Regions from separate parts of the Homo sapiens genome. Here all the other regions are linked to region 2. Evidence: fine-mapped expression QTL. A gene starts in region 2. Each other region holds a variant in brackets. All regions are shown on one strand. Distances are from middle to middle.

Region 1 (2,500 bases), 200 kb after region 2:
TGGGAAGCACATACTAATGGAGAAGAATTTCTGTTCTAATTAGAATTGCCAAGGGTTACCAGACCTCTCCAGATCTGCGATTGACCTGGTTGCAGAACATGGCAGGCAAGCACTCAGAACGAAGCAATCATGCTGAAGCTGCACAGTGTCTAGTCCACTCAGCAGCACTTGTTGCTGAATATTTGAGCATGCTGGAGGACCGGAAATATCTTCCTGTGGGATGTGTAACATTTCAGGTAGGAATCTTCCAGATGTACATTAAATCAAGGTATATCTTTTTTTGGTTTTAGCTTTTCTCACTGGTGTTTAGATTTTTTTAGTTTATAAGGAAAGCTTAAAGACTTAAGCCAATGCTTCACAAGGTGAATTAACATTTCACAGTGATTGTCATTAATACATTTTTAAGGAGTACTTCTTGTTGATTCTCTTTCCACAGTTTCTTACCTCTGAATTATCAGCACTATGCTTATTTATTCTCTTTGTCTTTACTGCCTTGTAATCCGTTACATACTTTAACATCTATGGAAATGTATTACTGATAATCAGAATTCAGTAGAAATTCTTAATTGGCTTTTACTTCACATAGCAGATATACCAACATTCTCTATTCCCTACATAAAATATTAGATTATTTTATGACTAATACCATGACTCACAGATGAGTTTGCCCTCTAGTAGGGTACATAATTCTGACCCACTAGTTGAATTCTCTGCTTACCAAGAGTCAGTTATGCTTTGCTTTTCTTCAAAACCTGTTAATAGTAGGTTTGAGATATTATAAAATTTAGTTAAATGTTATATCTTCTGATGAAATCAGAATGCAAAAAGAAAGTTATCGTTTCTCGGAAAACAAAGTTGAATGTTTTACAAAGACTCAGGAAAGGTGAATCTCCAAAACAATTGCTGTTGAATTAACTGTGGGCCAGACAAATAGATTGGGGGAGGGGAAACTCCTAAAATTCTAGAATAATTTGATAATCTTTTAAGTTTTCACTCAAAAGAAACCAAAACTTGAAATCTTTAAAAAGAGTGTTGCCTTATCGGTATTTACCCAAAAGAGATTCCGTGGAAATCTGATCTGGAAACCCATACACACAAAGAAAAGGCCTTAGATCTACTTCAAAAGTTGATGAATGAGTGTACATCTACTGTAAATGTTTAGGTTAAAATAAAATAGGGTATGTATGTATCATTTCTTTTTTAGAAATAATGGCTGATTCCAATCTCATTGAATAAGAGGGCTTTTATTATACCTGACTTTTTTCATTAACTCCGTGTACATTAGATAAGTCAAGAGACCATTTTTGTACCCTTTTTCCTTTACAGAGAGTTTTGAAAAGATCAATTAAATAAATAAGAAAGACTATTGATGTCTCCTTAGATGTCTTATGTTATATTACAATTTCCTTTAGCCCATGATTTTTCTTAATTTTCTTTCATACAACTTTTTATTAAGAGAAAAGTTATCTAGCAATGGTGTTTTCATTTTATTATCATCTTCAAAATACAGAAAGTTTTTAGAG[A/G]TTTATCTTTTACCTTTATATCACTCTCCTTTTTTTAACCTAACCTGATAGTTACAGTTCATCTTCAGTTATTTCTTCTTATACATTTTTATGCTAGAAAATTCTGTTTCAAAAACCTTTTCAATATATTTTTTCCCTAGAATATTTCATCTAATGTTTTAGAAGAATCTGCGGTCTCAGATGATGTGGTATCTCCAGATGAAGAAGGTATCTGCTCTGGAAAATACTTTACTGAGTCAGGACTTGTGGGATTACTGGAACAAGCAGCTGCTTCCTTCTCTATGGTAGATGACTCTTGTTAATTCTTTTCCCACAGTTTCATACCTCTAATTATCAATGACATGTGTATTTATTCTCTCTGGCTTATGACCCTACTTTTCTTTAAAGATAATTTATTCTGGACCCAGTATGGTGGCTCATGCCTGTAATCTCAGCACTTTGAGAGGCTAAGACGGGAGGATTGCTTGAATCCAGGAGTTCAAGACCAGCATGGGGAACATAGTGAGATACCGTCTCTACAAAAAATTAAAAATTCACCAGGCATGGTGGCTCATGCCTGTGGTCCCAGCTACTTGAGAGGCTGAGGTGGGAGGATTGCTTGAGCCCAAGAGGTTGAGGCTGCAGTGAGCCATGATTATGCTGCTGCACTCCAGCCTGGACAACAGAGTAAAACCCTGTCTCCAAAAAAAGAAAAAAAAATTGTTTTTTATTTCAAGTCCCCTAAAAACTATCTAGGAAAAGATTTTCTTTCTAGATTCATTATTGGCTTACTCCTTTTCATCTTAATAATCTGTCACTTCCCCCAGTGTTCCAGTGGTTTGGCTCACTGCGGCCTCAAACTCCTGGGCTCAAGATATCTTCCCACCTCAGCCTCCTGGGTAGCTGGGAATACAGGGGCACAGGGGCACACCATCACACCTGGCTAATTGTTGTATTTTTTGTAGGGATGGGGTTTCACTTTGTTGCCCAAGATAGTC
Region 2 (2,794 bases):
AACAGTGTGTTACTGGAGGGCGCCTTGGCAAGAGCCTGTGGTACTAGCTACTCCTCCAGAGGCTGAGGCAAGAGGATTGCTTGAGCCTAGGAGTTTTAGGCTGCAGTGCCCTATGCATTCCATGCTTGAGCAACACAGGGGGATTCTGTCTAAAATAAATAAATCAATAAATAAAAGCAGTGTGTTACTGCAATGAGCATTGTTATATAAATACACAGTCTTCCACAGAAGTTACAGCACTAGACAGGAAGTTATGGATCTGACTAATTGAGGCTTTCACCTCTGACTCAGTGTGTGACTCTGGCAAGTGACCTAATGGCTCCAAGCTACAGATTTTCCAATGGTAAAAGAGAGGAAAACAGGTATCCAACATATTCCACCAGGACATACTGAGAATATAATAATAACAATAAATAAATACACATTTTAAGTTCTTGCAATACTTAAGAGGAAAGGTACTACAAGAAACCAAGATATTTTTCTTAGTGTCACCATAATTTCAGTATCAACAGATATGCATTAGGAGCCAAATATTCTAGACATTATGGGATTACAACAGAACAGATGAAAACAAATCTCTGCTAGTCTCTGTTTTATAGGCTATTATGGACAAGGTCAGTTTCAGTGGTCAACACAGAGCTTATTTAACAGAACATCAAAATGGGGGTGAACGTTAGAGCTCACCTGGATTTTATATATATATATATATATATATATATATATATATATATATATATATATATGTATGTATGAGAGACAGAGAGAGATCCAAAAGGGGTTAATAATACGGAAACAACTGTCCTCAAAGAAAAGAACCGGCTCTGGGTTTGAGTCTCAGTGGAAGAGTTTACCATCTGTGCGACCTGGGGCCAGTCACTTAGCTTTTCCAAGCCAATTTCCTTCCCTCTAAAATAGTGATAGTAACGATCTACTTCAAAGCGCTCGTGCTTGAAAAACTTTAATCCAGTGGCTGGCTAAGCACCAGAAGTCAACTATTACTATTGTTATCGCTGCAGGAGCAAGGTATTTTCTGGCTCTTTCTCTATAAGAAAAACCACTGTTTCTCCAGTTAGGCTGCATTCATGAGGCCGAAGCAGAAACCCAAGTGCTTTAAAAAGCTCGGAGACCGGTGCTGCAGAAACATGAACCCAGTCATCCAGGGCTTTGGTTAAAGCACAGCCCCCTCGGCAAAGCCCACCTTTCATTTCCTTCCCTTCCATTTCGGGAAAGCCAAGCTCCCCCTACGCGTTCGGTTATCTTATTTTCTTGCCTCGCCAGGTCGCTGGCCTGTCTCTGGCTTCTCTCCGCGACCTCTCGGTCGTGCAGGCTCCGCGGCAGCGAAGCGGCTGGGGCTGGCGCCTCGCTTCCTCAGCGCTCCATTCTTCCCCTCGGCTCCCGCCGGCCGCAGCCGCCTTCCGCAGCCGGGGTTCCCGCCGGGATTGACGCGCTGGGGGAGGAGCGGTTTCTCGTTGCGCGCCTCTAAGGAACATTACGGCAGGGCTCGTTCCTGGCTCCGGCCGCCAGCCCCAGCCTCCCAGGTCCGGAGCCCGGACTGGCGGAGGCCGCGAGGGAGGGAGCACGAGCGAGGAGGCACGCGCCCGCCGGTCCGCACCCGGCCCGCCGCAGCCGCCGCCGCCGTCGCCGTCGCCGCAGCAGCCATGGCCGAGCGCCGCGCCTTCGCCCAGAAGATCAGCAGGTAAATATCCGGCGTGGGGCGCGCCGCCGCCGCCGCCCGAGAAAGAGCCGCGGAGTCCTCCCAGGCCTGGCCTAGGAGGCGGGTGGGTGTGGCGGGGCCGGCACCGGGATCCCGCGGCCTGGCTCGCGGCGGGGCGGAAGGGGTTCGGGGTGGCTGAGGGGGTAGCGGAGGCCTCGCGCCGCCCTCGAACCCCGGCCTTCAGCCCGCGCCCGCCGCTGAGCCTCGGCAGGGAGCGGAGAGGGCCGCGGACTCCAGCGCGCCCGCCTCCTCCTGCTCCTCGGCGGCCCGGGCCTGGACTTCTGCGGAGGTTTATGGAAGGGCGGTCGGCCGCTTCCCAAATTCTTTGTGTTCCCACCCCCGGGCTCGTCGGGGGCCGCCGCGGCGTTTCGCCCCCTCCCGTCTCTCCGCCCACCCCTCTTGGCCCCTAGAGGGTGCGGGGTCCGCCCTCCTCCACCCCAACAAAAGGAGAAACGCGCGGCGGCTCGGGGCGGGTGGGAGGCCGCCCCTCCTTCACGCGTCTCTCTCTTCCTGAGAAATCTGACAGGAACCCTCTTTGCACCCTCGGGCCAGGTTCAAAGTGGACTTGTGCGTCCAGGATTGAAAACGTGTGGACAGAATGAAAAGTTGAGAGCTGCGGGCTGCACCTTCGGTGTGCAGCTGCCGAATCCCTGACGGATTGCAGGCTGAAGCTTGTTCTGAGTTCGCCTGTGAATTTAACTGTGCGCCTGTGTTTCTCAGAGCACCCGAGAAGATGGATGATAGGCAGTGTTCTTTATACACTGACATCCTTTTATATGTTAGCAGTCTTGAAGTAAAGCAAGTGATTGCAGTCTTGAAGTAAAGCAAGTGATTGAGGTGGAGGTTTCAAAGCCTTTCACCTACTTGTGGTGGTTGGTTGCCACCTTTCTCCCACCCGCCAAATAAAAATTAAATGACAGAGGACTCTAATATTTGTAGAATTTCTTTGTGGAGTATACTTATGTATGAGACAGTAGACATTTTTGTTTTAATAAAATCATATTTGTGTGAATTATGATGTCCCAAGAAAAGAAGCATTCATATTAAATTACCTTTTTTTGTTTTGGGGCAGTTGTAGTT
Region 3 (2,500 bases), 230 kb after region 2:
GCCTGCAAGAGCCGGTGAGTGCCTGTAATCCCAGCTACACAGGAGGCCAAAGTAGAATGATGGCTTGAGGCCAGAAGTTCAAGTCTACGTAGTGAGACCCTATCTCTTAAAAAAAAAAATCCATTTGCAATTGATTTTTGTGTATGGTTCAAGGTAGGGATCAGTTTGATTTTTGTCCATACTGATAACTGATAATGATCTCAGTGCCATTTATTGAATATGGTATGAGATATGGTTTAGGTTTTTTTTCCCCTTACAGATATCCAGTTGACTCATTACCACTTATTTAAAAAGCATTCACAGGTTTGTGGTGAAAGTCTGGTTTGCTGTGTCATCACTATTATAAATTTCTTTCTTTCTGGTTTGCAGTGTCATCACTATTATAAATTAAGCACCCGTGTTTATGTGCCTATGTTTTTGGGATCTTTATTCTCCTACAGTACTCTATTTATCTCTCTTTCAGCTAATGTCATGCTCTCTTAACTACTGCCGCTTTATAATAAGCTTTGCCGTGTGGCAGAGCAATTCCTCTCACCTTGTTTTGTTGAAGGACTGTTTTTGGCTGTTTTCAATTTTATATAAATTTTAAATTTTAGAATCAATTTTTCACTCCATGCACCCAAAAAATAACCTGAATTTATAGATCAGTTGGAAGAGAATTGACATCAGTCCATGAATATGGTATATTTTTCCATTTACTTAGGTCTTTTAAATGTTTTCTTAATACTATTTAAATTTTTTGTGTAGAGGTCTTGTACATTTTAAAATTTATTCTTTAGTATATAATGCTTTTATGATTTTATTAATTTTTTTTTTTTTTGAGATGAGTTTTGTTCTTGTTGCCCAGGCTGGAGTATAATGGCAAGATCTCGGCTCACTGCAACCTCCGCCTCCTGGGTTCAAGCGATTCTCCTACCTCAGCCTCCCAAGTAGCTGGGATTACAGACATGTGCCACCACGCCTGGCAAATTTTGTATTTTTAGTAGAGATGCTGTTTCTCCATCTTGGTCAGGCTGGTCTCGAACTCCTGACCTCAGGTGATCCGCCCGCCTCTGCCTCCCAAGGTGCTGGGATTACAGGCATGAGCCACTGTGCTCGGCCTTAATGTTATCTTTCAAAATTGTGTTTTCTGTTTCCTGCTCTACCAAAAATCAGTTGACTTTTATTTTATTTTATTTTATTTTATTTTATTTTATTTTATTTTATTTTATTT[A/TATTTTATTTA]TTTTTTGAGATGGGGTCTCACTGTGTCACCCAGGCTGGAGTGAGTGCAGTGGTGTGATCATGGCTCACTGCAGCCTTGACCTGCTGGATTCAAGCGATCCTCCTGCCTCAGCCTCCCAAGTAGCTGGGACCACAGGTGTTCACCACTATACCTAATTTTATAGTGACAGAGTCTCACTATGTTGCCCAGGCTGGTCTCTCACTCCTGGGCTCCAGCAGTCCTCTGGTCTCAGCCTGCCAAAGTGCTGGGATTGCAGGTGTGAGCCTCTGTGCCCAGCTGCAGTTAACTTTATATATTACTTTTACATGAGAATTTTACCAGACTTACTTATTAATTCTAATAATTTATCTTATTAGAATTATTATCTTAATAGACTTATTAATTCTAATAATTTATCTGTAGAATCTTTTTCTTGTCTTATAATGATATTTAGGACGTCCAGTACTCTGTTGACTAGGAATAGAGAGGACATCATTTTCTTGTTCCTTCTCTAAAAGGGTTTTCACCACTAAGTATGTTTGCTACAGGTTTTTTGTAGATTTTTAATTATGGTTAAAGGACTACCCACCTATTTGTAGTTATGCAAAGAGTTTTTAATATGACAGGTTTTAAAAGTTTGTTATCAAGTGCTTTTATTCTGCATCTCCTTTAATCTTTTAATCTAAAAACTTAGTGATTTTATAACCCAACTTTTCATTTATTCCAGGAATTAATAAACTTGGCCAGTGTGGTACCTTATGCCTGTAAATCCCAGCACTTTGGGAGGCTGAGGCAGGCAGACCGCTTGAGCTCAGAAGTTTGAGACCAGCCTGGGCAACATGGCAAAACATTATCTCTGCTAAAACTACAAAAATTAGCCGGGCATGATGGTGCACGCCTGTAGTCCCAGCTAATTGGGAGGCTAAGGTGGAAGGATCCCTTGAGCCCAGGAGATCAAAGCTGCAGTGAGCTGAGATCGTGCCACTGCACTTCAGCCTGGGCAAAAGAGCAAGACCCTGTCTCAAAAAAAAAAGAAAAAAAGAAAAATACTTGGAGGGTGTGTGTGTGTGTGTGTGTGTGTGTGTGTGTGTGTTCAATACATTGGCACAAGTTTTCTGCTAAAATTGTCCATCAGTGTGCCTTCTGTGGATACCAAAATCTGAAGACAAGTTTAATATGTTATATAAAATGGTGTAGTATTTGTATATAACCTATGTACATCCTCCTGTATACTTTAAATCATTTTAGACTACTTAAAATACCTAATATATAATGTAAATAGTTGTTAATATTGTATTGTTTAGGAA

Direction of the effects. Alleles are on the strand shown, and positions count from the first base shown. SD is a standard deviation of normalised expression in the study named.
For the expression in CD4 T cells of the gene that starts at base 1,537 in region 2, allele G in region 1 goes with a higher level than allele A (moderate effect, 0.57 SD a copy in BLUEPRINT).
With allele TATTTTATTTA in place of A in region 3, the expression in NK cells of the gene that starts at base 1,537 in region 2 is higher (moderate effect, 0.66 SD a copy in Gilchrist 2021).

Evidence for each region. PIP is the estimated chance that this variant, and not a neighbour inherited with it, causes the effect. A credible set is the group of variants that fine-mapping cannot tell apart.
Region 1: its variant is the best candidate, but not a certain one, in a credible set for the expression of DOCK7 in CD4 T cells (BLUEPRINT, PIP 0.58).
Region 3: its variant is the best candidate, but not a certain one, in a credible set for the expression of DOCK7 in NK cells (Gilchrist 2021, PIP 0.85).

What each region holds. Positions count from the first base shown.
Region 1 is chr1:62,492,011-62,494,510 of GRCh38, reverse strand. DOCK7 (dedicator of cytokinesis 7) reads left to right here. Exons shown (of 50, transcript NM_001367561.1): 40 at 44-236; 41 at 1,664-1,807. Among named protein-coding and RNA genes, the nearest start is that of USP1, 56 kb to the right of the region's middle. The variant A/G (reference allele first, on the strand shown) is at 1,524.
Region 2 is chr1:62,687,129-62,689,922 of GRCh38, reverse strand. It overlaps DOCK7 (dedicator of cytokinesis 7), which reads left to right and starts at 1,537. Exons shown (of 50, transcript NM_001367561.1): 1 at 1,537-1,696. The coding sequence starts at 1,659. It overlaps DOCK7-DT (DOCK7 divergent transcript), which reads right to left and starts at 1,441. Exons shown (of 2, transcript NR_185999.1): 1 at 1,271-1,441. RefSeq lists an enhancer at 131-425 and a silencer at 1,435-2,184.
Region 3 is chr1:62,460,391-62,462,890 of GRCh38, reverse strand. All of the region lies in intron 48 of DOCK7 (dedicator of cytokinesis 7), which reads left to right. Among named protein-coding and RNA genes, the nearest start is that of USP1, 25 kb to the right of the region's middle. The variant A/TATTTTATTTA (reference allele first, on the strand shown) is at 1,214.